Homo sapiens: one gene and its partners. The protein of the gene in region 6 purifies or fractionates together with the protein of the main gene of each other region. This does not show direct contact. Each region holds a gene or a part of one and is shown on either strand. Other genes may lie near its edges.

The links.
Region 1: the proteins of RIGI (region 6) and TIA1 fractionate together in Homo sapiens (co-fractionation; one large-scale study listed by BioGRID). This does not show direct contact.
Region 2: the proteins of RIGI (region 6) and EIF2AK2 purify together in Homo sapiens (affinity purification with western blotting, with the first as the bait; one study listed by BioGRID). This does not show direct contact.
Region 3: the proteins of RIGI (region 6) and MARCHF5 purify together in Homo sapiens (affinity purification with western blotting; one study listed by BioGRID). This does not show direct contact.
Region 4: the proteins of RIGI (region 6) and RTN3 purify together in Homo sapiens (affinity purification with western blotting; one study listed by BioGRID). This does not show direct contact.
Region 5: the proteins of RIGI (region 6) and TRIM14 purify together in Homo sapiens (affinity purification with western blotting, with the first as the bait; one study listed by BioGRID). This does not show direct contact.
Region 7: the proteins of RIGI (region 6) and CYLD purify together in Homo sapiens (affinity purification with western blotting; one study listed by BioGRID and IntAct). This does not show direct contact.

The regions. Positions count from the first base shown.
Region 1 is NC_000002.12:70,242,129-70,245,628, reverse strand, and holds part of TIA1 (cytotoxic granule associated RNA binding protein TIA1), read left to right. Parts: intron 1-3,500. UniProt on the Homo sapiens protein: RNA-binding protein involved in the regulation of alternative pre-RNA splicing and mRNA translation by binding to uridine-rich (U-rich) RNA sequences.
Region 2 is NC_000002.12:37,118,981-37,122,480, reverse strand, and holds part of EIF2AK2 (interferon-induced, double-stranded RNA-activated protein kinase), read left to right. Parts: intron 1-2,341; coding exon 2,342-2,522; intron 2,523-3,500.
Region 3 is NC_000010.11:92,297,667-92,301,166, forward strand, and holds part of MARCHF5 (E3 ubiquitin-protein ligase MARCHF5), read left to right. Parts: intron 1-3,500. UniProt on the Homo sapiens protein: Mitochondrial E3 ubiquitin-protein ligase that plays a crucial role in the control of mitochondrial morphology by acting as a positive regulator of mitochondrial fission and as an important regulator of immune response.
Region 4 is NC_000011.10:63,754,500-63,757,440, forward strand, and holds part of RTN3 (reticulon-3), read left to right. Parts: intron 1-1,612; coding exon 1,613-1,671; intron 1,672-2,941. UniProt on the Homo sapiens protein: May be involved in membrane trafficking in the early secretory pathway. Inhibits BACE1 activity and amyloid precursor protein processing. May induce caspase-8 cascade and apoptosis.
Region 5 is NC_000009.12:98,112,723-98,116,222, forward strand, and holds part of TRIM14 (tripartite motif-containing protein 14), read right to left. Parts: intron 1-3,500.
Region 6 is NC_000009.12:32,488,197-32,491,696, reverse strand, and holds part of RIGI (antiviral innate immune response receptor RIG-I), read left to right. Parts: intron 1-276; coding exon 277-396; intron 397-2,245; coding exon 2,246-2,353; intron 2,354-2,809; coding exon 2,810-2,963; intron 2,964-3,493; coding exon 3,494-3,500.
Region 7 is NC_000016.10:50,783,586-50,787,085, reverse strand, and holds part of CYLD (ubiquitin carboxyl-terminal hydrolase CYLD), read right to left. Parts: intron 3,228-3,500; exon of another isoform or gene 2,897-3,227; intron 2,758-2,896; coding exon 2,635-2,757; intron 248-2,634; coding exon of another isoform or gene 232-247; coding exon 140-231; intron 1-139. UniProt on the Homo sapiens protein: Deubiquitinase that specifically cleaves 'Lys-63'- and linear 'Met-1'-linked polyubiquitin chains and is involved in NF-kappa-B activation and TNF-alpha-induced necroptosis.

The DNA of each region.
Region 1 (3,500 bases), on a different chromosome or scaffold from region 6:
AGCATATGGGTGATGTATACTACTCTTCTCCATATATAAATTTGAAATTTTCCACAGTAAAAAAATAAAAATACGTGTATAGTGAGTCTGAATTGGCCTTGGTTACTTTAAAAATATTCAACTTGTGAACTAAAAGCTACACACTAGACTAGAAAAACATTGCTGGTGTTAGTTGATGAAAGTTAATTCCCTCAAATCCAGACACCTTAATATCCTTTGTGTGGTTTACTCTCAAATGCATGAGTGTTCTCTTTTGAGATAACTATACTGTTATTGTGCGGCTTTCCCATTTGCTAAGATGCAGATCTGTAAATTATAGACCATCTTTAAAAGCCTGCAGCTGGCCAGGCATGGTGGCTCACACCTGTAATCCCAGCACTTTGGGAAGCCGAGGTGAGTGGATCACCTGAGGTCAGAAGTTTGAGACCAACCTGGGCAACATGGTGAAACCCCATCTCTACTAAAAATACAAAAATTAGCTAGGTGTGGTGACACATGCCAGTAGCCTCAGCTACTCGGGACTCCGGAGGCTCAGGAAGGAGAATCGCCCGGGAGGTGGAGGTTGCAGTGAGCCGAGATCACGCCACTGCACTCCAGCCTGGATGACAGAGCAAGACGGAGCCCAATTAATTGCTATATACTAATGAGGGCCTTGCCTTTCTTCTGCTCCATGCTCATCTTTCATTCTTGTTGTCTACTCCACTCTCCAAATAGTATTGGCCTTGTAATTTGTATGAAATAAAATCTCTTGTATTGAGAATCAGACCTATCTTTTTTTTTTTTTTTTTTTTTTTGAGACAGAGTCTCGCTCTGTCACCCAGGCTGGAATGCAGTGGCCCAATCTTGGCTCACTGCAAGCTCTGCCTTCCAGGTTCACGCCATTCTCCTGCCTCAGCCTCCGGAGTAGCTGGGACTGCAGGCACCCGCCACCACGCCTGGCTAATTTTTTGTATTTGTAGTAGAGACACAGTTTCACCGTGTTAGCCAGGATGGTCTCGATCTCCTGACCTCGCGATCCGCCTGCCTCAGCCTCCCAAAGTGCTGGGATTACAGGCGACAATCAGACCTATTTTAAAGATTAGATTGAAGGCAAGGTTGGCCAAAATGAGATATTTATTAGATAATACTTATGTTTCCAAATAACTGCTAGTAATTAAGAATATGCTAGAAACATTACATTCACTCAGTAATATTGAGAGCATACTACATGGCTGTCCGTCTTCTGGGAACTGGGGATATGGTAGTACATATAATAGGCCTTTTACGAATTTACATAAGTAATTATGTTAGATGGTAATAAGTGCTATGGAGAAACATAATGCAGGGTATGCATGGTAAGGAGGAAGGGGTGGATATTTATAGAGAATAATAAAGGAAGGTCATCCTTTGATAAGTGACATTTGAGGAAAAAAGTGAAGGAGATGAGGGAGAGCCATGCTTCTATCTGAAGGAGGAGCACCCTAGAAAGAGCTAGTGCAAGGGGCCCTTGGGGGCAGGTCATGCTGGTTGGTTAGCCTGAAGAGAGTAAATGTAGTAGAGGAGTAGGAAATGAGGTCAGAATGATAAATAGGAATGTTAGGGGAGATAGAAAATGCCAGATCATACGGATCCTTATGAGGGCTATCTTATCTGAGTAGGAATGGAAGCTGTAAGTGGGTTTCACGCAGAGTAGTGGTATAGCCTATCTTAACCTTAAAACTGGCAAAAGCAAGTAGCCTAGTCAGGAAGCCAATCCAGGTATCAGAGAAAGCAGTGCCTGTAATTGTAGTTAGTGCTGGTGAAAGTGATGGGAAGTAGTTGAATTATGGATATGTTTTGAAAATAGAGCAACAGGAATTACCAGTGGCTTAGATGTGGCATGTGAGAATGATGTCAACAATAAATGGATTTATTTTAAAATGTGTAATATCAGTTATCTAAAATGTTATAGTTTGTTGCAAAATATAAGTAAAAATGAAAAGTCTTGAGGATCGATATCCCTTAAGATGTCTACAGGCATAGTATTGAATACATTTGTTCAAGCTGGTTTACCTAGTGAAGGAGGTCCCAACTAGTAAGGCAGTTTCAGCCATCTCTTGTAACAGATTATTCTTTGTGATGGGTATACATTTGTTAAATAATAATAAGGTTAGGATGCTGATGTATAGTATATACACAAGCACTTACTATTCTACACAATTTATTTATTTATTTATTTTAATTGAGATAGGGTCTCATCCTGTTGTCCAGGCTCTGGCGCAGTGGTGTGATCACAGCTCACTGTAGCCTCGACCTCTCAGGCTCAAGGGATCTTCCCACCTCAGCCTCCTGAATAGCTGGGACTATAGGCATGTGCCACCATGTCTGGCTAATTTTTAAAAATATTTGTAGAGAAGCGATCTCACTGTGTTGCCCAGGCTGGTCTCCAACTCCTGGGCTCAAGCGATCTTCCCACCTTAGCCTCCCAAAGTGGGATTATAGGTGTGAGCCACCGTGCCTGGTGTTTACACAGTTTCTTCATTAGCAAAAGACATAACTAATCTTTTCCCTCTAGGGTAACTTAAGCAAAATGAGAGAATTTTCTAGCAAATTGCAAATGTTCAGAAGTCATTCTGAGACAGTACATTTAACTCTTTAACAGATATTTATAGAGCAATAAATATCACTGCAATGATATTGCAATGTTCCAGGCAGTGTTCTAGACTAGCAGTCCCCAGCCTTTTTGGCACCGAGACCAGTTTTGTGGAAGACAATTTTTCCATGGGCGGGATGGTTTCAGGATGAAACTGTTCCACCTCAGAGCATCAGGCATTAGATAAATTCTCATAAGGAACACACAACCTAGATCCCTTGCATGCCCAGTTCACAAATGCTGCTGATCTTACAGGAGGCAGAGCTCAAGCAGTAATGCTCCCTCCCCTGCTGCTCACCTCCTGCTGTGTGGCCCAGTTCCTAACAGGCCATGGACGCATAATGGTCCATGGCCTAGGGGGGAGTTGGGGACCCCTGTTCTAGATGGTAGATACCAACTAAGAATAAAAATGAAAACCTCTTATGGAATTTATTATTAGGTAAAAAACTATTCATCGTTTTTACTCAAATTTTCAGAGACCTTATCAAATTCTGCCTTTTTTTTTTTTTTTTTTTTTTTTTTTGAGACTGAGTCTCTGTCACTCAGGCTGGACTGCCGTGGTGAGATCTCGGCTCACTGCAACCTCCACTTCCCGGGTTCAGGTGATTCTCTCGCCCACCATCACACTTGGCTAATTTTTTGTGTTTTTAGTAGAGGCAAGTTTCAACATATTGGCCAGGCTGATCTCGAACTCCTGAGCTCAAGTGATCCCCCACCTCAGCCTCCCAAAGTGCTGGGATTACAGGCGTGAGCCACCGCTCCCAGCTAATCCTGAAAATTTCTTATAGGCACAAGAGTCAGGTGAGAGTAGACACACAAGAGATGCAGAGATAGTACAGAGTTTTGTTTTTTGCGGGGGAGGGTTTTGCGGAAGAATGGCATGATAACC
Region 2 (3,500 bases), on a different chromosome or scaffold from region 6:
CATAATAGGATGGAAGGAAATTGTTATTTACTATGTATGGGCCACTGGATAAGGCTATTAATCATCACGATTAATTATCACAATTCCCTCTGAGAGACACTGTTATCTCTCCATTCCGAAGGTAAGGAGAAAGTGAAAATCTCTTCCTTGCTCCTCCTCTTGCTGCAGACTTGCTCTCACAACCCTCTGTTACATCCTCAGCTGTCTGCAAAATCTCAGGTTCAGCTTTCCTGACTCCATTGTTTCATGGAGAGCCTTGTTCACGTGCCGGCTTCAGCGCAGGCTGTTTAAGTGTAGTCTTGTGAAGAGAGTTTTAACATATAGATGCTGCATCTGGGGGCTCCCTCCTCAGCTACCAACACTTTTCTGTCCCTCTCTTAGGCTGTGATTGGTGTGGTGCCGTCAGAGGGTCTCTTTGGAATGTAACTATACCACTTATGCTGGGGTGGTGGGGAGTGAAAATATTTTTAAGACCACAAGCTGAGATGGGGGCACCCTCATGTTTTATGTCAGTTAAGCCATTGCCAAACAACTGGAGATCCTAAAGAGCTGGCATCTGTCTTTGAAAGTCACCCAACCTATTATGGGGACAGTCCTCTCACTAAAATCCTGAGGCCAATGGGGTCCCATTCATTCATTTTCTCCTGCCCCACCTCCATCTCCATGTCGTGTAAGTGAGAACATTATCATCAGTTCAGGAGTTATTGACCGTCAGCATACAGGACTTCAGCTTTCAGCAAATTCTTGGCTACCTCTTCCTGTTTTCAAGCTGACATATATACAAAGAATATAAATGAATATTGAGGCTAACTTAATTCAGAAAAAAAATAAAACGTGGTTAGCAAAAAAAAAAAAAAAAAAAATCAAGCCTCCAATTTATGTATCTTAGTAATTTGTTGGCACTTCTCTTAGAGTACCTTCCCTATTGTTTTAGGTTTGCTTTCCCTTTACTCTCTCCTATTAGACTATTATCCCCGTGACGGCAAGGATATAGTGTCTAACTGATTTTCTCATCTCTAGGTGCCTTTCATGCTTAGTAGATCAATGGTGAATTAAAAGGTTTCAAAGTTACTTTATATAATAATGAAATTTAGTTTCCTGCATTGTATTCATGTTCCTATTTCTATCTGTTAGCAATGGTGATTGCAGATCTTCAGCAATGAAGAATGGGTGGCTCATTTTTTTTTTCTTCTCGTTTTTTTTTTTTTTTTTTTTTTTGAGACGGTGTCTCGCACTGTCGCACAGGCTGGAGTGCAGTGGTGCAATCTTGGCTCACTGCAAGCTCTGCCTCCCGGATTCACAGTATTCTCCTGCCTCAGTCTCCTGAGTAGCTGGGACTACAGGCGCCCGCCACCACGCCCGGCTAATTTTTTGTATTTTTAGTAGAGACGGGATTTCACCGTGTTAGCCAGGATGGTCTTGATCTCCTGACCTCGTGATCCACCCGCCTCGGCCTCCCAAAGTGCTGGGATTACATGCGTGAGCCACCGCGCCCGGCCTCTTCTTTTTTTTTTTTTGAGACAGAGTCTTACTCTATCGCTCATGCGGGAGCACAATGGCGTGATCTCAGCTTACTGCAATCTCTGCCTTCTGGGTTCAAATGATTCTCGTGCCTCATCCTCCCGAGTAGCTGAGACTACAGGTGCCGCGCCACCACACCCAGCTAATTTTTGTGTTTTTAGTAGAGATGGGGTTTCGCCATGCTGCCCAGGCTGGTCTCAAACTCCTGAGCTCAAGCAATCCGCCAGTCTCGGCCTCCCAAGGTGCTAGGATTATAGGCGTGAGCCACCGTGCCCAGCCCAGCTCATATTTTATAAATTAGCTAAACAAATAAAGCTCTGGACATCCGGGAACTTATGATTGAAATAAAAAATGGCCTATTATATTTTGATTCAAATTTGTTTATTATATTTAGATTTCTATTTTGTGACATGTTTTGGGGTTCTTTTTTTTTCTTTTTTTTTTTTTTTTTGTGAGACGGAATCTCGCTCTGTCACCCAGGCTGGAGTGCAGTGGCGTGATCTCGGCTCACTGCAAGCTCCGCCTACCGGGTTCACGCCATTCTCTTGCCTCAGCCTCCCCGGAGTAGCTGGGACTACAGGCGCCCGCCACCACGCCTGGCTAATTTTTTGTATTTTTAGTAGAGACGGGGTTTCACCGTGGTCTCGATCTCCTGACCTCGTGATCCGCCCGCCTCGGCCTCCCAAAGTGTTTTTGGGGTTCTTAAGAAGATAAGGTATAAGCTTTTAAAAAGTTATGAAAAACTTTAAAAAGTTATAAAAAATTTTTTATAAATTTATATTTATTGTTACTTTTAACATACTGTGAATTTTATACCCAGGTCAAAGACTAAGTGCCTTTTCATCCAAATGGAATTCTGTGATAAAGGGACCTTGGAACAATGGATTGAAAAAAGAAGAGGCGAGAAACTAGACAAAGTTTTGGCTTTGGAACTCTTTGAACAAATAACAAAAGGGGTGGATTATATACATTCAAAAAAATTAATTCATAGAGATCTTAAGGTAAGTGGAAAATGTACTTTATTAATTGATATATATATAATATAGTAATTTTAAAATATATCTTCTCAGCTGGGCACAGTGGCTCACGCCTATAATCTCAACACTTTGGGAGGCTGAGGCAGGCAGATCATCTGAGGTCATGAGTTCGAAACCAGTCTGGCCAACATGGTGAAACCGTGTCTCTACTAAAAATACAAAAATTAGCTGGGCATGGTGGCGTGCGCCTGTAATCCCAGCTACTCGGGAGGCTGAGGCAGGAGATTCGCTTGAACCTGGGAGGTGGAGGTTGCAGTGAGCCAAGATTGTGCCACTGCACTCCAGCCTAGGTGAAGAGTGAGACTTGTCTCAAAAAAAAAAATTATATATATATATAAAATAAGATAGATAGATATATATTTTTTTCTCTAGTTTTAGAATAGTGGTTGATTGATAGTTATGAGAAAATGGTATCTGAACATTTCCATGCAAATAATTACTGTGACTGGCACAGCCAACTGGCTGCTCTGCCCCTGTTCCTCCTGCCTCCTCTAAGTGACTCAGCTTTATTTGAGAGGCAGAGGGGACTCTGTTGACTGTTGCTTTAGGAATATGGTTCCCTAATCTCTCAGTCATTACTCGCGAGGGCTGTCACAGCTACTGGGTCCAGAGTCTAATACTGTCTTGGTTAAGCATTTCAACCCCATGATTGGAAAATTGCGGTAATCCCGGACTGGGAAAGTGTATCATCCCTTAGTATTTTCATTTTCCTCTGGCTTTTATGGTCCGGACAAGGAGTTTCCCTATTTTTTACTTCTCATTAAAATGACAGAAGGTGAGAGACAGAATAGCCCTTCACAGCCTTTCCTCCATTCCCTATTCCCTGTGACTTGCCTAAGCCTGTCACAAGCTGGCCGTCCTGAATCCTGTCCCTGGACCTTTGCTCATGTTCTTCTCTCTCATGGGACACTCTTCTGCCTGCCCCCTTTGGTTGTAATTCCT
Region 3 (3,500 bases), on a different chromosome or scaffold from region 6:
ATTTTTAGTAGAGACAGGGTTTCACTGTGTTGGCCAGACTGGTTCAAACTCCCGACCTCGTGATCCACCTGCCTCGGCCTCCCAAAGTGCTGGGATTTCAGGCATGAGCCGCCACACCTGGCCTTTTTTCTTTTTTAATCCAGTCTCGTTTATGACATTTAGATTCTTATTTTCTCTTTATTATTTTTCCTGATAATTTGACTTTCATTCCCCTTTCTTGTCATTAGCTCTACTGAAAGTGTACTGAAGGGCTGGGTGCAGTGGCTCACACCTGTAATCCCAGCACTTTGGAAGACCGAGGCAGGCCAATCACTTGAGCTCAGGAGTTCAAGACCAGCCTGGCCAACATGGCGAATCCCCATCTCTACAAAAAATACAAACATTAGTAGGGCATAGTGGCACATACCTGTAATCTCAGCTACTCGGGAGGCTGAGGCACAAGAATCGCTTGAACCTGGGAGGCAAAGGTTGCAGTGAGCTGAGATCGTGCCACTGCACGATCTCTCTCTCTATATATGTATATGTATACTAAAGGTCACCAATAATTTCTTAGTAAATATAATGACATTTTCTTCAGGACTTTTTATCCTTCAGAATCACGTTACCTTTTTCTTCCTTCAATTTCTATGTATGGTTCAATTCTCAGCATTTACTATTTTGAGAAAGTACACTTACTCACTCTCTTTCCTGTTTATTCAAACAACTCCCAGATCTGTGTCTTTATTCCTGACCTCTTTTCCTCATTTCCTTTAGCACCTAATTTCTACCTGCCCAGTGGACATTTCCATTTGTGTGTATACAGTATTGCCAATCAATCTAAAACTAAGCTACTTATCTTGACTTCTCAATTTTTGGTCTTTGATATTACCAGTCTTCTTGTCCACCAGCTATAAAACATAAATTTTATTTGTTTGTTTGTTTTTGAGACAGGGTCTGGCTCTGTCGCCCAGGCTGGAGTGCAGTGGCCCATCTCGGCTTACTGCAACCTCCATCCCCCACCCTCCGGCTCAAAATATCCTCCCACCTCACCCTCCTGACTAGCTGGGACTGCATGTCCAGCTAATTTTTGTATTTTTAGTAGAGACGGGCTTTCGCCGTGTTGCCCAGGCTGGTCTCAAACTCCTGAGCTTAAGTGACCCTCCTGCCTCAGCCTCCCATAGTGCTGGGATTACAGGCATGAAGCTAGCCAAAACATAAGTTTTTCTTGTTTTCTTTGTTTTTGTTAAAGAAACAGGGTCTTGCACTCCCAGGCTCAAGCCTCCCAAGTAGCTAGGAGCACAGGGCAAGCCAGCATGCCCAGCTAATTTTTTTTAAACTTTTTTTTTTTTGGTGGGGAGGGGGATAGAGACGGGTCTCACTATGTTGCCCAGGCTGTCTCAAACTCCTGTTCTCCACCAATCCTACCTTGGCCTCCCAAAGTGTTAGGACTACAGGTATGAGCTACCTTGCCCGGCCTATTTACATTTTTTTGCTGCCTTCTTTCCTTCCAGATCCACTTGTTCATCACATATTGTTGATTTTCCTTTTTCTAGCTTCAATTTTTCACTTGGTCCAGTTTGGCCTACAGAGTGGCACTAGAATTAGCGAAGGCACAATTATAATCATGCGATTTCTATACTTAAAAATCTGCCAGTCTCTGTGTCACGTAAAAGGATAAAACGTAAACTTTCAACGGGGTAACGTGCTTTGATCTGTTACTATAATCCAGCCCCAACCTACCTTAACCATCCTTTCCTGCACTCCCCTTCATTGACCCCTGAACATATCCTGCTCTTTCATTTCTTTATTTTTGCTTTAGGTGCCTTCCTCCCTCCTAACACCTGGTGAAGTCTTACCCATATTGAATTCAGCTGAAATACCACAGTGACACCTTGCACAGCTCCCCCAAACAGAGTTAATAACTCCTTTCTGTGTTTCAATAGAACCTTGTTGCATTTATTATAGTGTATCACATTGTACTGTAAATTTTTTAATATACTTGTCCCATGTCTCAGAGCTTCCCACACACACACATATTCATCTGGAAGTTCACTGAGAACAGAAACTGCCTGTATTCCCTATCCTATTTTCCCACAAGGGCCTTAGTGCATAGGAGACCCTCTTTTGTATCATGATGTCTTTCTTTTCATTCTTTGTGACATATCAGTGCTTAGAATAATCATGCAGAAGCACCATTTTTTTAAATTGCCTCATTTGCTCAAAACTTGTATTTTCTTACTGCTTATTGAGATTAAGTTCAGGGCTGGGCACTTTGGGAGGCTGAGGCAGGAGGATCGCCTGATCTCAGGAGTTTGAGACCCACCTGAGCAAAATACTAAGACCCCCGTCTCTACAAAAAATAAAAAAGTAACCAGTGTAGTGGTGCATGCCTATACTCCCAGCTACTCAGGAGGCTGAAGCGGGAGGTTCACTTGAGCCTGGGAGATTGAGGCTGCAGCAAGCCATTATCACATCACTGCACTCCAGCCTGGGTATAACAAAGCAAGACCTTGTCTCAAAAAAAAAAAAGAAAAGAAAAGAAAAAAAGATCTGGCCGGGCTCAGTGGCTCATGCCTGTAATCCCAGCACTTTGGGAGGCCGAGAGGAGCAGATTGCTTGAGCCCAAGAGTTTGAGACCAGCGTGGGCAACATGGAGAAACCCTGTGTCTACTTAAAAAAAAAAAGAAAGAAAGAAAAAATAGCTGGGTGTGGTGGCCCACACCTGTAATTGCAGCTGCTGGGGAGGCTGAGATGGGAGGATCACCTGAGCCCAGGTTATGGAGGTTGCAGTGAGCTGAGATTGCACCATGCCACTGCACTCCAGCCTGGGCCACAGAGCAAGACCCTGTCTCAAAAAAAAAAAAGAGATCATATTCTTTAGCCTGTCCTTCAGGACACTCACCATTATTCACAGACCATTTATTATGCTCCCTATTATGTTTAAGATATGCCGTACATAGCTGGCACCAACTGCCTTTTTAAAGCCTTTCTTCTCTTTATGAATAAGTGTATAAGTACCCAAGTCTTTTGCCCAAGCCAAACTGGCTTGCGCACTTTCTTCCAAACATAAGGTGGTTTTTGTTTTTGGGTTTTGTTTGGCATCTTTTCTTTCAAAGCTCTACCCATTTTTCAAGACCTAGTTAGGTTCTGCCTTGTTTATAATGCTCTTCTGACCATGTCTGCAGAAATATTTTTCTCTTCTTCTCCAGACTCATGTAGCAGTTCATCTTCAGTGCCTCCTAATTCTTTTTTTTTTTTTTTTTTGAGGCAGAGCCTTCACTCTGTTGCCCAAGCTGGAATGCAGTAGTGCAACCTTGGCTCACTGCAGCCTCCGGGTTCAAGCGATTCTCATGCTTCAGCCTCCCAAGTAGCTGGGATTACAGGTGTGTGCCATCATGCTCAGCTAATTTTTTGTATTTTTAGTAGAAACAGGGTTTCACTGTTTTGGCCAGGCTGGCCTTGAACTCCTGGTCTCAAGCAGTCCTCCCCACTCAGCCTCCCAAAGTGCTGGGATTACAGGC
Region 4 (2,941 bases), on a different chromosome or scaffold from region 6:
ACCATCCTGGCTAACACGGTGAAACCCCATCTCTACTAAAAATACAAAAAATTAGTCGGGTGTGGTGGCAGGCGCCTGTGGTCCCAGTTGCTCAGGAGGCTGAGGCAGGAGAATTGCTTGAACCTGGGAGGTGGAGGTTGCAGTGAGCCGAGATTGCACCACTGCACTCCAACCTGGATGACAGAGCAAGACTCCATCTCAAAAAAAAAAAAAAAAAAACGCTTAGATGGGAGATTGAGACCACGGTGAAACCCCGTCTCTACTAAAAATACAAAAAATTAGCCAGGCATGGTGGCGGGCGCCTGTAGTCCCAGCTACTCAGAGAGGCTGAGGCAGGAGAATGGCATGAACCTGGGAGGTGGAGCTTGCAGTGAGCCGAGATCGCGCCACTGCATTCCAGCCTGGGCGACAGGGAGACTCTGTCTCAAAAAAAAAAAAAAAAAAATGCTTAGATGAATAAAAGCCGGGTGTCTAAAAGGAAACTTTAAACTCTAGGTTATTCAGGTAATCCATCAGTGTGATGAGGTGTTTGCATTGTTGGATGATGTGTACCAAGTATACTAGATGCCATGAGATTATTCTTTATGGATTAAGTCATCCATCAAGAGACTTTTTGGCTTTTTGGTATTAAGTGAATTAGTGTTACACAAGAGCCATAACATATTTATGATGACAGAAAATAGATTAGACACACAGTTTCTAGTCATTGGAAACTGTTATATACTCCAGTGTCTCTAAAGAAAATACTTACCAAGTAAGACTTAACCTCTGCAAAAGATGAGTGATTTTTTCACTTTAACAAAGTGTGGGGTGTTTATGGTGTAATTTGGATTCTAAAACCAGAGGTTTTAAAAATACTTTTAAGGCTAGGTGTGGTGGCTCATGTCTGTAATCCCAGCACTTTGGGAGGCGGAGGCAGGTGGATTGCCTGAGGATGGGAGTTCAAGACCAGCCTGACCAACATGAAGAAACCCTGTCTCTGTCTCTATTAAAAATACAAAATTAGCCAGGCATGGTGGCGCATGCCTGTAATCCCAGCTACTTAGGAGGCTGAGGCAGGAGAATTGCTTAAACCCGGGAGGTGGAGGTTTCGGTGAGCCGAGATCACACCATTGCACTCCAGCCTGGACAACAAGAACAAAATTCCATCTCAAAAAAAAAAAAAAAAAAAAAAAAAAGGCTGGGCACAGTGGCTCATGCCTGTAATCCCAGCACTTTGGGAGGCCGAGGTGGGTGGATCACGAGGTCAGGAGGTCGAGACCATCCTGGCTAACACGGTGAAACCCCGTCTCTACTAAAAATATAAAAAATTAGCCAGGCGTGGTGGCGGGCGCCCGTAGTCCCAGCTACTCGGGAGGCTGAGGCAGGAGAATGGCGTGAACCCGGGAGGTGGAGCTTGCAGTGAGCCAAGATAGCGCCACTGCACTCCACCCTGGGCGAGAGCGAGGCTCCGTCTCAAAAAAAAAAAAAACTTTTAAAAACTGGGTGTTTTCATTTTCTACACTGGTCAGTCGTGTTTAAAAAATGGTTAAACTAGACAAAAGAGCCGTGCCTTCAGGAAAATTGGTGATCTGTATGTTACCACAACTGAATTTATTTTCCTTCCTTAAAGACCCAGATTGATCACTATGTTGGCATCGCCCGAGATCAGACCAAGTCAATTGTTGAAAAGTAAGTACATTTAGAGACCACATCATCATGAGGTATGCTTCCTTCCCCCCAATTATCTTTAGTCCCTTGTACAAAATGCAGATGCCAAGGAAAGTAATTTTCATTTTGATAAAAACCTTAGTTAATAGTTTCATTTTACTAAAAATTATTATAGCTGCTTCTATAAAAAGGAAAAAAAATCCTTTATATCTTTTTCTGGCCCTGCCTTCTGGACCTTTGTAGGCCAGGCATTTTGACTCACATCTGTAATGCCAGTGCTTTGGGAGGCCGAGACAGGAGGATTGCTTGATCCCAGGAGTTCAAGACCAGCCTGGGCAACATAGCTAGGCCTTGTCTCTACTAAGAATAAAAAATTAGCTGTGCATGGTAACACGTGCCTTTAGTCCCAGCTACTGGAGAGGCTGAGACAAGAGGATCAATGGGAAAAAAAAGATCAGTGGAATTTTTTGGAGACAGGGTCTTGCTTTGTCACCCAGGCTGAAGTGCAGTCTCGACCTCCTGGGCTCAGGTGATCCTCCCACCTCAGCTTCTCCAGTAGCAAGGACCATAGGCTACTCTGCCTTTTTGAACTGGCTTTTAAATGTTCTTCATTACAGGCTGGGCACGGTGGCTCACACCTGTAATCCCAACACTTTGGGAGGCCAAGGCCGGTGGATCACGAGGTCAGGAGTTCGAGACCAGCCTGGCCAACATAGTGAAACCCCATCTCTACTAAAAATACAAAAATTAGCCAGGTGTGGTGGCATGCAACTTTAGTCCCAGCTACTCAGGAGGCTGAGGAGGGAGAATTGCTTGAACCTGGGAGGCGAGGTTGCAGTGAGCAGAGACCATGCCATTGCACTCCAGCCTGGGTGACAGTGAGACTCCGTCTCAAAAAAAAACCAAAAAGTTATTGGTTGCTTCCCCACCTTCATTTATTTTCACATGTATTCATTTAAGCCAAACGTATCCCTCTCAGAAACAAAAGTTCTAGTAAATAAGTAACTTAAGGATCAAAGTTGTCTTTTCTAAGATTGCCAAATCTCTGTTCCCATTTTTTTAAACCAATTAATAAATCAGGAAATAAAATATTGACAAACATCTTTATGACTCCCTATATCAAAGAGTTGTTTTCTTCTTTTTACTTTTTTTCCCCATACCTAGAGGACAGTATTTTTTTTCTTTTTTCTTTTTTCTTTCTTTTTTGTTTTGCTTTCTAGAGACAGGGTCTCACTCTGTCACCCAGGTTGAAGTGCAGTGGCACAAGCTGAAAGCTCACTGCAGCCTTGAC
Region 5 (3,500 bases), about 66 Mb from region 6:
GGGAGGTGGAGGTTGCAGTGAGCAGAGATTGCGCCATTGCACTCCAGCCTGAGTGACAGAGCAAGACTCAATCTCAAAAAAAAAAAAAAAAAAAAAATCAGAAGGAAATGGCCAGGCGCGGTGGTTCATGGCTGTAATCCCACCACTTTAGGAGGCCGAGACAGGTGGATCACCTGAGGTCAGGAATTTGAGACCAGCCTGGCTAACATGGTGAAACCCCGTCTCTACTAAAAATATAAAAATTAACTGGGCATGGTGTTGTGCACCTGTAGTCCTAGCTACTCGGGAGGCTAAGGCAGGAAAATTGCTTGTACCTGGGAGGTGGAGGTTGCAGTGAGGCAGTTCATGCCACTGCACTCCAGCCTGGGCAACAAGAGCGAAACTCCATCTCAAAAAAAAAAAAAAAAAAAAAAAAGAAGGAATTTTTTATAAGTTTTTCTAAAACTTAAGTATTAATATCAAAAGCACACTCATGTAAGGCCAGAGTCTGGGCTCCTGTGTTGGAACAACCAGGTTTTATCAGAGCATTGATCTGCTCTTTAATAGAAAATGGTGAGAGATTATCGATTATCTTATCTTGTGTAGTCAAAGCTGACTGAAATTGGATGATAGATAATATACTAACACCTAAGTAATTTTTTTCTTTTTTTGAGACAGGGTCTCACTTTGTCACCCAAGATGAAGTTCAGTGGTGCAATCTTGGCTCACTGCAGCCTTGACCTCCCAGGCTCAAGCAATCCTCCTGCCTCAGCCCCCCAAGTAGCTGGGACTATAGGCACACACCACCACACGCAGCTAATTTTTGTATCTTTTGTAGAGACAGGGTTTCACCATGTTGCTCAGGCTGGTTTTGAACTCCTGAGCTCAAGTGATCTGCCTGCCTTGGCCTCCCAAAGGGCTAGGATTACAGGCATGAGCCACTGTGCCTGGCCTAAAAGTAAAACTTGTTTTTCTCCTTTGAATAAAAATGTAATGTAGAATTAATAAGAGACGGTAAAAGATGTATTTACTTTTGCATAAATGGCAAAGAAAAGGTAACTGGGGAGAGTTTGTCCCATGCTGTCTTTATTAGGTCTCTTGATTGAGAACTGAATCTCCTCTATCAGAGTGGTTTTTGCTTTTTGAAATCTTTGAATAATCATTTTGGCTAAAGTAATTACCATTATTTTGTAGTGACCTGTGATTCTATTTTGATCATGTGTTTTAAACCTTTCTTATTTCTATATCAAGTGTTTTAAACCTTTAATATTTGAGATACTTCCCAAAATTAAATTAAGTCTTTTTGACCCAAGCTAACTTGGGCATAACCAGGACCCCTGGAAGTCCAAAAGAGACACATTAGGCTTATTTGGGATGTCAAAGTCATATGGGAAATATTGTCAAATAAGAAATGATGTTTAACTTTCTTTGAGTTATATTTATAAAAGCGTATTATTAATGTGTTCCAAAATTGTATGAGATTCCTAAAAGTCTGATATGTCTTGGTATATGTTATCAGTATATCATTATCATAATTATTATGATAAACTGGTGTGTGCCACACAAATAACCACATATCCTAGTCAATTTCATCTTTGACCGTGGCTATTCTAAGCCTTTTATCATCCACAGACAATTTGTTTTTTTTTTGAGACAGAGTCTCATTCTGTCGCCCAGGCTGGAGTGCAGTGGCGTAATCTCGGCTCACTGCAAGCTCCACCTCCCGGGTTCATGCCATTCTCCTGCCTCAGCCTCCCAAGTAGCTGGGACTACAGGTGCCCGCCACCACGCCTGGCTAATTTTTTTGTATTTTTAGTAGAGACAGGGTTTCACCATGGTCTCGATCTCCTGACCTCGTGATCGGCCCGCCTCAGCCTCCCAAAGTGCTGGGATTACAGGCGTGAGCCACCGCACCCAGCCGACAATTTTTATTTTACTTTGATTCTTTTAAAAAAAGTCGTTTATAATCAGCTACAAAATTTGCTTCATCTTTAAGGAAATTTTTGGAAAAAAACCCTGACAAGTACTCTTGAATACAGGTTTCTGGTAACTTCAGAGATCTTACCATTGGATTAAGCAAAAGCTTCCAGAACTCTAATAAAAACCTGAGGCATTCATGAAGACTGCTAACCCAACATCAAGCAGAGCAAGAATTATTTACATGGGACTAAACTGATAGAGGATAAAAGTGATTTTTATGATTTTTAAAATTTGAAACATTGCTGATTCTTTTTATATTGTTTTTCAGTCAAGAAAATTTTTTCTTTTGTCACAGCAACTGGATAAAAGATACTTTTGTGAGCAAAATTGAAACATTTGTCTTTCTCTCTACCTGATTTCACCAAAATTTGCAAACTATTTGTGTTTACTTTTTTTATTTTCATTTTTAAATTAATTTTTTTTTTTTAGACAGAGTCTTGCTCTGTCACCCAGGCTGGAGTGCAGTGGCATGATCTCGGCTCACTGCAACCTCTGCCTCCTAGGTTCAAGCGATTTTCCTGCCTCAGCCTCCTGAGTAGCTGGGACTACAGGTACATGCCACCACGCTTGGCTAATTTTTCTTTCTGAGGTGGAGTCTTTCTCTGTTGCCCAGGCTGGAGTGCAGTGGCACAATCTTGGCTCACTGCAACCTCTGCCTCGTGGGGTTCAAGCAGTTCTCCTGCCTCAGCCTCCCGAGTAGCTGGGATTACAGGTGCCCACCACCATGCCCAGCTAATTTTTGCATTCTTAGTAGAGATAGGTTTCACCATGTTGGTCATACTGGTCTCGAACTTCTGACCTCGTGATCCACCCACTTTGGCCTCCCAAAGTGCTAGGATTACAGGCGTGAGCCACTGAGCCCAGCACAATTTTTGTATTTTTAGTAAAGATGGGGTTTCACCATGTTGGCCAGGCTGATCTCCAACTCCTGACCTCAACTGATCCGCCCACCACAGCCTCCCAAAGTGCTGGGTTTACAGGCGTGAGCCACCGCACCTGGCTATTTGTGAGTATTCTTATTTTATGACAATATAGTTATTTGCATAAGTTCAATAAGAGTATGTTTTCTTTCATAACAGACCACATTGGAGACACTGGTAATTTTACCAAGGCTTTGACTGAAATGATATATCTTCATATATGATCAGACTGCTTTCAGGAACTGAAGTCAAGTTTACAGAGCCCATAAGAAGACCCTTGGGGGCCAGGCTTGGTGGCTCAGGTCTGTAATCCCAGCACTTTGGGAGGCTGAGGTAGGTGGATCACTTGAGTCCAGGAGTTTGAAACCAGCCTGGGCAACATAGTGAGACCCCGCCTCTATTAAAAAATGTTAACAAGAATAAAATAAAATACAATAAAAGGGGGCCCAGCACTTTGGGACACTGAGGTGGGCAGTTCACTTGAGGTCGGAGTTTTCAAGACCACCCTGGCCAACATGGTGAAGCCACATCTCTACCAACAAATACAAAAATTAGCCAGGAGTGGTGGTGCACACCTGTAGTTCCAGCTACTCAGGAAGCTGAAGTGGGAGAATCACTTGA
Region 6 (3,500 bases):
CCGAGGTCTTGTTAAAATGTGGATTCTGATTCAGTAGGGCAATACGTTCCACACTTTGAGTAATATAGCTCTAAATTACATTGGAGGTCAACGCCAAATTGAGATTTTAAACTCAAAATGATTCTTTCAACTGTTTTAAAAGGTGAAGGGGAGTGGTTGTGAGAAATTTTAATAGAAGTTAAAAATCTTAGTGTTATGACCATTTTGTGGAGCTTTCACCATCAAAACTATAATCAGATTATGTGAAGATTCTAAGACTTTTTTGGTCTTAAAAAGGTATAAAAGATGTTGAAACAGAAGATCTTGAGGATAAGATGGAAACTTCTGACATACAGATTTTCTACCAAGAAGATCCAGAATGCCAGAATCTTAGTGAGAATTCATGTCCACCTTCAGGTACCTGGTATTGTTTGTCCTTTTCCATAATGGTGCTCTTCTGGTATTTGGTGTGGGGGCTTGTTTTGCAGTACCCAAAGTCACAGCCTTGTGAAAAGTTTTGTAAGGAAAATTAAGAAAGTAAAGAGAATTTATGTTACAATAGATACTTTTTCTATATTTAGAATGCCATTCTCTCCTAGTTCTTCCACTATCTTTTTTTCTTCTTTTACTATCTTTTTTTTCTTCTTCTACCACTAAGAAAGTATGGGCGTGTCTATATTGGAAATGCAAATAGAGTCTTCACCAAAACCCAATGTCTATGAATTCCCAAATCAACCTTGCTTTCTAAATAAATACTACTTCTATTTCTGAGTCACTTGCTCAATTTCCTTTTAGGATCCCTGGGCTGCCCTGCAAGTTGATGAAGTTAGTGTGCTACCCAAATGCGCCTGGCTGAGAGGTTGAGTAGGGGCTGAGATCCAGCCTGTGTCGTTTGCAACACAGTGCACTGAGGGGCTGTGTCCTCCAAGAGGAGCTCCCTTTTGTCATTTACACAAAGGCACTGTATAAGTTAGCTGTGGCCCTGTGAGGCCCCCTTATGCTTCTCAAAGCATATTTTCTTGATGGTTTTATGAGACCGGCAAGTTGCATAATATGCCATAATAAAAAGTTATGTATAAAAGAGTATCAGGAAGGAAATTGGGATTAATAGTGGTGGTAGAAGAAAAATGATATTAGAATAACATCATAAAGAGAAAATGTGCAGATTACGTCTGCAACTGAATGTTACAAGTTTTTTTGTTTTGTTTTGTTTTTTTGGTCATTTCAGAATAAAATCTGTTACCCCTTGGAAAAAAAAAACAGATACATGAATATGAGTTGCTTTAAATTTTCTGACACGTGAAGATTCTTGCATGCCTTTTGTTGTTGTTGTTGTTATTGTTTTTTGAGACTGAGTCTCTCGCTCTGTTGCTCAGGCTGGCGTGCAGTGGCACAATCTCAGCTCACTGCAACCTTGGGTTCAAGTGATTCTCCTGCCTCAGTCTCCCAAGTAGCTGGGACCACAGGCATGTGCCACCACATCTGGTTAATTTTTGTATTTTTTTTGGAGAGGTGGGGATTTCAGCATGTCGGCCAGGCTGTTCTTGAACTCCTGACCTCAAGTGATCCATCCACCTCAGCCTCCCAAGTGCTGGGATTACAGGCATGAGCCACTGCACCTGGCCTTTACATGTCTTTCGTGTGAGTTTAATTCACTTAACCTTTTAGAAATTCTCCCTTTCTCTAAAATGGGTAGGTTAGACTCAGTAGATAATTTCCAAAGTCTTTGCTAGCTCTTAATGATTTATATGCCTACCTGTTATTGAGATAAAGCCTTTGATTATTTTTTAAAACTTCTGGTTATGTTGAGAGAAAATATCATTTGAGAACTTGAAGAACGACAAAGCATTATTGCTCCTTAATAAGAAATTGCTTTGAGAATCCAATGTTAACAGTTTGGTTTTCTTCAAAGATCGTGGGAGGATTTGTTGCTTTTTTCACATACAGCATTGCCTTTAGTAGACAGCTTGTCTTACCCTGAATGGGGCCATTCTTTCTTTGGTTTCTGTTAGCCTTCCATGATTGTATAAAAAATAATTCATGTTTTTTTTTTTTTCTTTCTTGCCATCAATACTTTGTCACTGAGAGAATTCTGTACTTCAAATTAGTGGAAAAGCTAGAATGGTTACCAAGAGAAAGGATTCTAAACTTTCTCCAATGAGGATCTTCTTGCTGGAGTCAGAATTTGTGGACATTAGACTGTAGCTATTGCCGTGATTCCTCAGAGCAGGAACTGTTTGGTAATTTTGCTCCTTTTGTATTCCAGAAGTGTCTGATACAAACTTGTACAGCCCATTTAAACCAAGAAATTACCAATTAGAGCTTGCTTTGCCTGCTATGAAAGGAAAAAACACAATAATATGTGCTCCTACAGGTAAGCCTATTGCCATTACTTACATAGTTTTTCTGTTTGCTTCCTTTTTTTTCTTTTGTTGAATACTGGGACAGAATGGGCAAGTTTCAGTTTTTTCCTTGTTCCATGTGTCTTTTGAGAAAACTGTCCTAATATAATCCTAATGTTTTTTATGGGATTATGTAATTAATTAATTATGTACATTAATGTATTTAATGTATTTTCTTTACCTTTCATGAGAAGGTAAAGAAAAGTGTCCTCTTTTAGCTTGCTTTTGGGTCCTGGCTGTTGGCATGCTACTTAGGGAGCAGCTTGATATTTTTTAGTCATAGTGTAAATTCTGTAATCATTAACATATTTAAATTATCAATTAATTAGTCAGCTCAGTGGTATTAGAAGAGCCAAAAATAAACACCTTTCCAGAGAAATATCTAATATATGAGTTACATGTTTTCTTTTTTCCTTACATGTTAAAAGGTTGTGGAAAAACCTTTGTTTCACTGCTTATATGTGAACATCATCTTAAAAAATTCCCACAAGGACAAAAGGGGAAAGTTGTCTTTTTTGCGAATCAGATCCCAGTGTATGAACAGCAGAAATCTGTATTCTCAAAATACTTTGAAAGACATGGGTAGGTATAATAGTTGCTTCAACTTCTTTTTCTCCAGCTTCATGTAATTGATGTGTTTTCTGTTTTGTTTTTGACAAATGATTTAAAAAAATTTATATTAGATTCAGCTTTTTTATAATCCAGATGTTATCCCTTCATGGATTCAAGTCTTTTTTGTTAGATGTACCAGAAAACTTAAACTCCCCTGGTTTGCCCTTCTATGGGGAGTAAATGACTTCAGGAATAAATTTGATGTTTACGTGGCACATTTAACTTCTTTAGTGATTTTATAATTTATTTGATATTATTCTTTTACGTACTCTTTTCTCTCTTAGTGACTTAAAATAATATATAGTACTATAAATTACAACTAGCTTGGATTTATTGATCTCTTACTATGTGTCAGGCTCTGTGCTAAGGACTTGCCTACAGCTATTCTTCTTTTGGACTCAGGGAGAATTTAATCAGTTGATGTTCTGATCTAGCATTTCATCTTTGTGGTTCCTTATCCACATCGTGGTTAGTAATATGGAATTTCTGTCATTTCCCAGGTATAGA
Region 7 (3,500 bases), on a different chromosome or scaffold from region 6:
CTAACCATATATCACATAAAAAGAAATTTCTAATTTAAAAGAAAACCCCCCAACTACACAGACACACATTTCAGCTAATACTTTGACATGTGAATATGCTCTTCAGTTATTTTTAACGCATATAAGTTAAGATGGTCACCTTTTTCTTCAGAGGTAAATCCTGATGCAGCCTCCACCTTTTCAAGTATTTTCCTCAGTTTCATAATTTTTGTGGCACACACATATCCATATCTAAGTTAGTAAAAAACTATTAATTGATATTGGCATGTATTAAATTATATAACACATCTTAATCACATATTTCTTTTTTTCTTTTTTTTTTTTGAGATAGAGTCTCACTCTATCACTCAGGCTGGAGTGTGCAGTGGCCCGATCTCAGCTCACTGCAACCTCCGCCTTCCAGGCTCAAGAGATTCTCATGCCTCAGCCACCAAAGTAGCTGGAATTACAGGCGTGCACCACCACATCCAGCTAATTTTTGTATTTTTAGTAGAAACAGGGTTTCACCATGTTGGCCAGGCTGCTCTTGAACTCCTGGCCTCAAGTGATCCGCCCACCTCGGCCTCCCAAAGTGCTGGGATTACAGGTGTGCGCCACCACACCTGGCCAACACATTTCTTATACAACTCCAGTATGTCATAAATCAATAGGTTAGACAATTATTTTTGAAGAAAACAATGATAAGCTTCTTCTTGAAGTTTGCAAAATTAAAGATCTAGAACCAGAATTATCCTAGACACTATTATATGCTCTACAAGTAACTGTCATACACTAAGATAAAAAATTTTTAGGTTTGCTGTGACTGATTTTTTAAATAATATTTGCTTGGGAAATTAAAGCATTTACTTTATAAAGCAGAATATACAATTTTGAGAGAGAATATCCTTTTAATACTGAAGTGTGAAACAGCCACCAAGGGAAATGGGAAAGGGAATTTATAAGAAACTGAAAATCTAAAATCTGCAATCAAACCAATTGGCATAATGATGACATTTTCTCTCTTCTTTGTCTGAATGCAAGACACATTCAATCAGTTTAATATCACTTTAAATTTGTAATTCTAAAAATGGCTTCAGAGGAGAACTTGGCGGCTACCATAAGTTTACTAAGGACAAGTCAGAACTAGCTAATTTTATATCCACTTTTTATACTATTCATTCACTCATTAGTTTCCTGCAACCAATACAGACTGAGAATCTACCACTTACATAGTAACGTAACCTGTCAGCCACTGGGAATACAAAATGAGTAAGGTTAAAAAGACAGGGTCTCTGAAGAAAAGCAGAGATTTCAGCACCAAATAAAACCAGTCAGCTATATACAGATATGAATGCTACAGACACAGGGAATCCTGATCACAACAGGGCATCTGACCAGTTTCTTACCGTGGACAGGGTAAGAAAGTGTGATTAACTATGATTCTTAACTGGCTGAACAATAGGATCCAAAGAATGTTTATTCTTCCTCTCTTCTAGGAAGGAGGTGTTAACATGCCTTAGAGTTTCGGGTTTGACCTGTCTTGTTCCAGTATCAATTACTTGGGGGAAAAAAATCGTATGTTTAAAAATTTGCATAAGACAAAATAGTTGATGTGAAAATCAAGATTCACAATTATCTTAAAGAGTAAGATCATTAGAGAAATCATTACAGAATTTAAAGAAAGCAAAAGATATAAGTGAGGAAATTTATTCTCTTATAATTTACTTTCCTAGTCATGTGATATAGCAGATAATTTGGAATCCTCATTGTATTTGAGTATTCTGCTTTTTTGGTTCAAATTTGATATCAAACTATTTTTTACTTTAATTGATAAATAAGAACAGTATATAAAAGGATTCAAATTTATCTTAATATGGACTTTAAATAAATCACTTTCTCTCTATATTCCTGAATGAACAAATTTGTTTTATGATCTATGGTCCTAATTCTTCATAGTTTAAATTTTATAATGTGACATTATCACATATCACTACTACCACTTATTCAAAGTCTTTACTAGATATCTCCTGTCACTTGTGCTTGTACCATTACAAATTGCTTCCTGTGGCCATAAAAAGACATATTTATAATTCCTAAAGTAGGAAATGGAAAAAGAATCACCTTTTTAAGGCAGGTGGAAAGAGGCCAAATATATTCCTTTAACCAAAAAATATGGTACTAAAATACATCTCATCTGTTGCTAGTCCAAAGTATTAAACACTAGCTATTCTATAAAGAATTTCCCTTTCTCCTTTTCTTTCAGATTTAAGAAGCTAGACTACACCAATTTAACTAATAAGCATGATTACTTGTAGCAGAAGTGTTGGAATAAACTATTTCAAAAGATAAGAATCCTAAGTATTATGTATTAGCTTTCCTAAACATACTGCAATTGCTAAATTATAGTTTACTCTAGCAAAATAGGTTAAATCATTTCATGGAATATGCTATGTTCTACACCTTGGCCACATTTAAGAAATTAAATAAGCAAAAAAGTACAAGGACCAAAGGTTTAAAAACGTAATATTTTACCATAAGAACTAATTTTCACCCATCTCTTATTACATGAAGACAAGGTATAAATTAATTACTATACCAGAAAACAGCAAATAGAACACCATGTAAAGGCAAAATAGCAATTTGTTTTCTACTTACATTCTCAGAGGATTAACAATTTCTGTCCTCAGTAGCTCTTGGGTTTCACTATAATATTCTACATCGTTCTTTTCTTTGGGTCTAAGTAACACAGTGTCCAGAACAGAACTAAAAGCAAATAAGCTGCAAAAGAAAAAGGATAATTTTCTTCATGCTGTAAACATATTTTTCAAGAAACAGATTTTTAACAGAATTAGAAGAGGAAAATAAGTAAAGTCTGGAGAACAAATAACATAACAATTTGTGTTTTTCATTAACACAGGTACCAGGACCCCTGTGAAGATACCCATGGTTCAATCATCAGGACCTACAGATCCTTCCATGTTAAGGACAACACCAATAATACTGAGAAAGCAAACGGCAGATTGGCAGTGTTAAAGGATAACAACGTGCCAACAGAATATTAAGAAAGAAAACTTCTTTGCAAAAGTTGATAGAGAGACTACAAATATCAGTCAAATTACAAACAGACAACAGAGGACAGCATTTGGAAACGACTTCCCGAGGCAAGCACTATTCAGTGCCCCACTTCCCTCTCCCCATGCCCCTTTGCAAAGATCTATTACATTAATAAATTTCTTTAAATGCTAAAATCACTTATGAGTGACTAACAGGCCAGGTGCGGTGGCTCATGCCTGCAATCCCAGAACTTTGGGAGGCCGAGACGGGTGAATCACCTGAGGTCAGGAGTTTGAGACCAGCCTGACCAATATGGTGAAACCCCGTCTCTACTAAAAATACAAAAATTAGCCAGGCATGATGGAGTGCACCTGAAGTCCCAGCTACTTGGGAGGCTGAGATAGGAGAATCGCTTGAACCCGGGAGGTGGAGGTTCCAGTGAGCCGAGATCACGTCACTGCATTCCA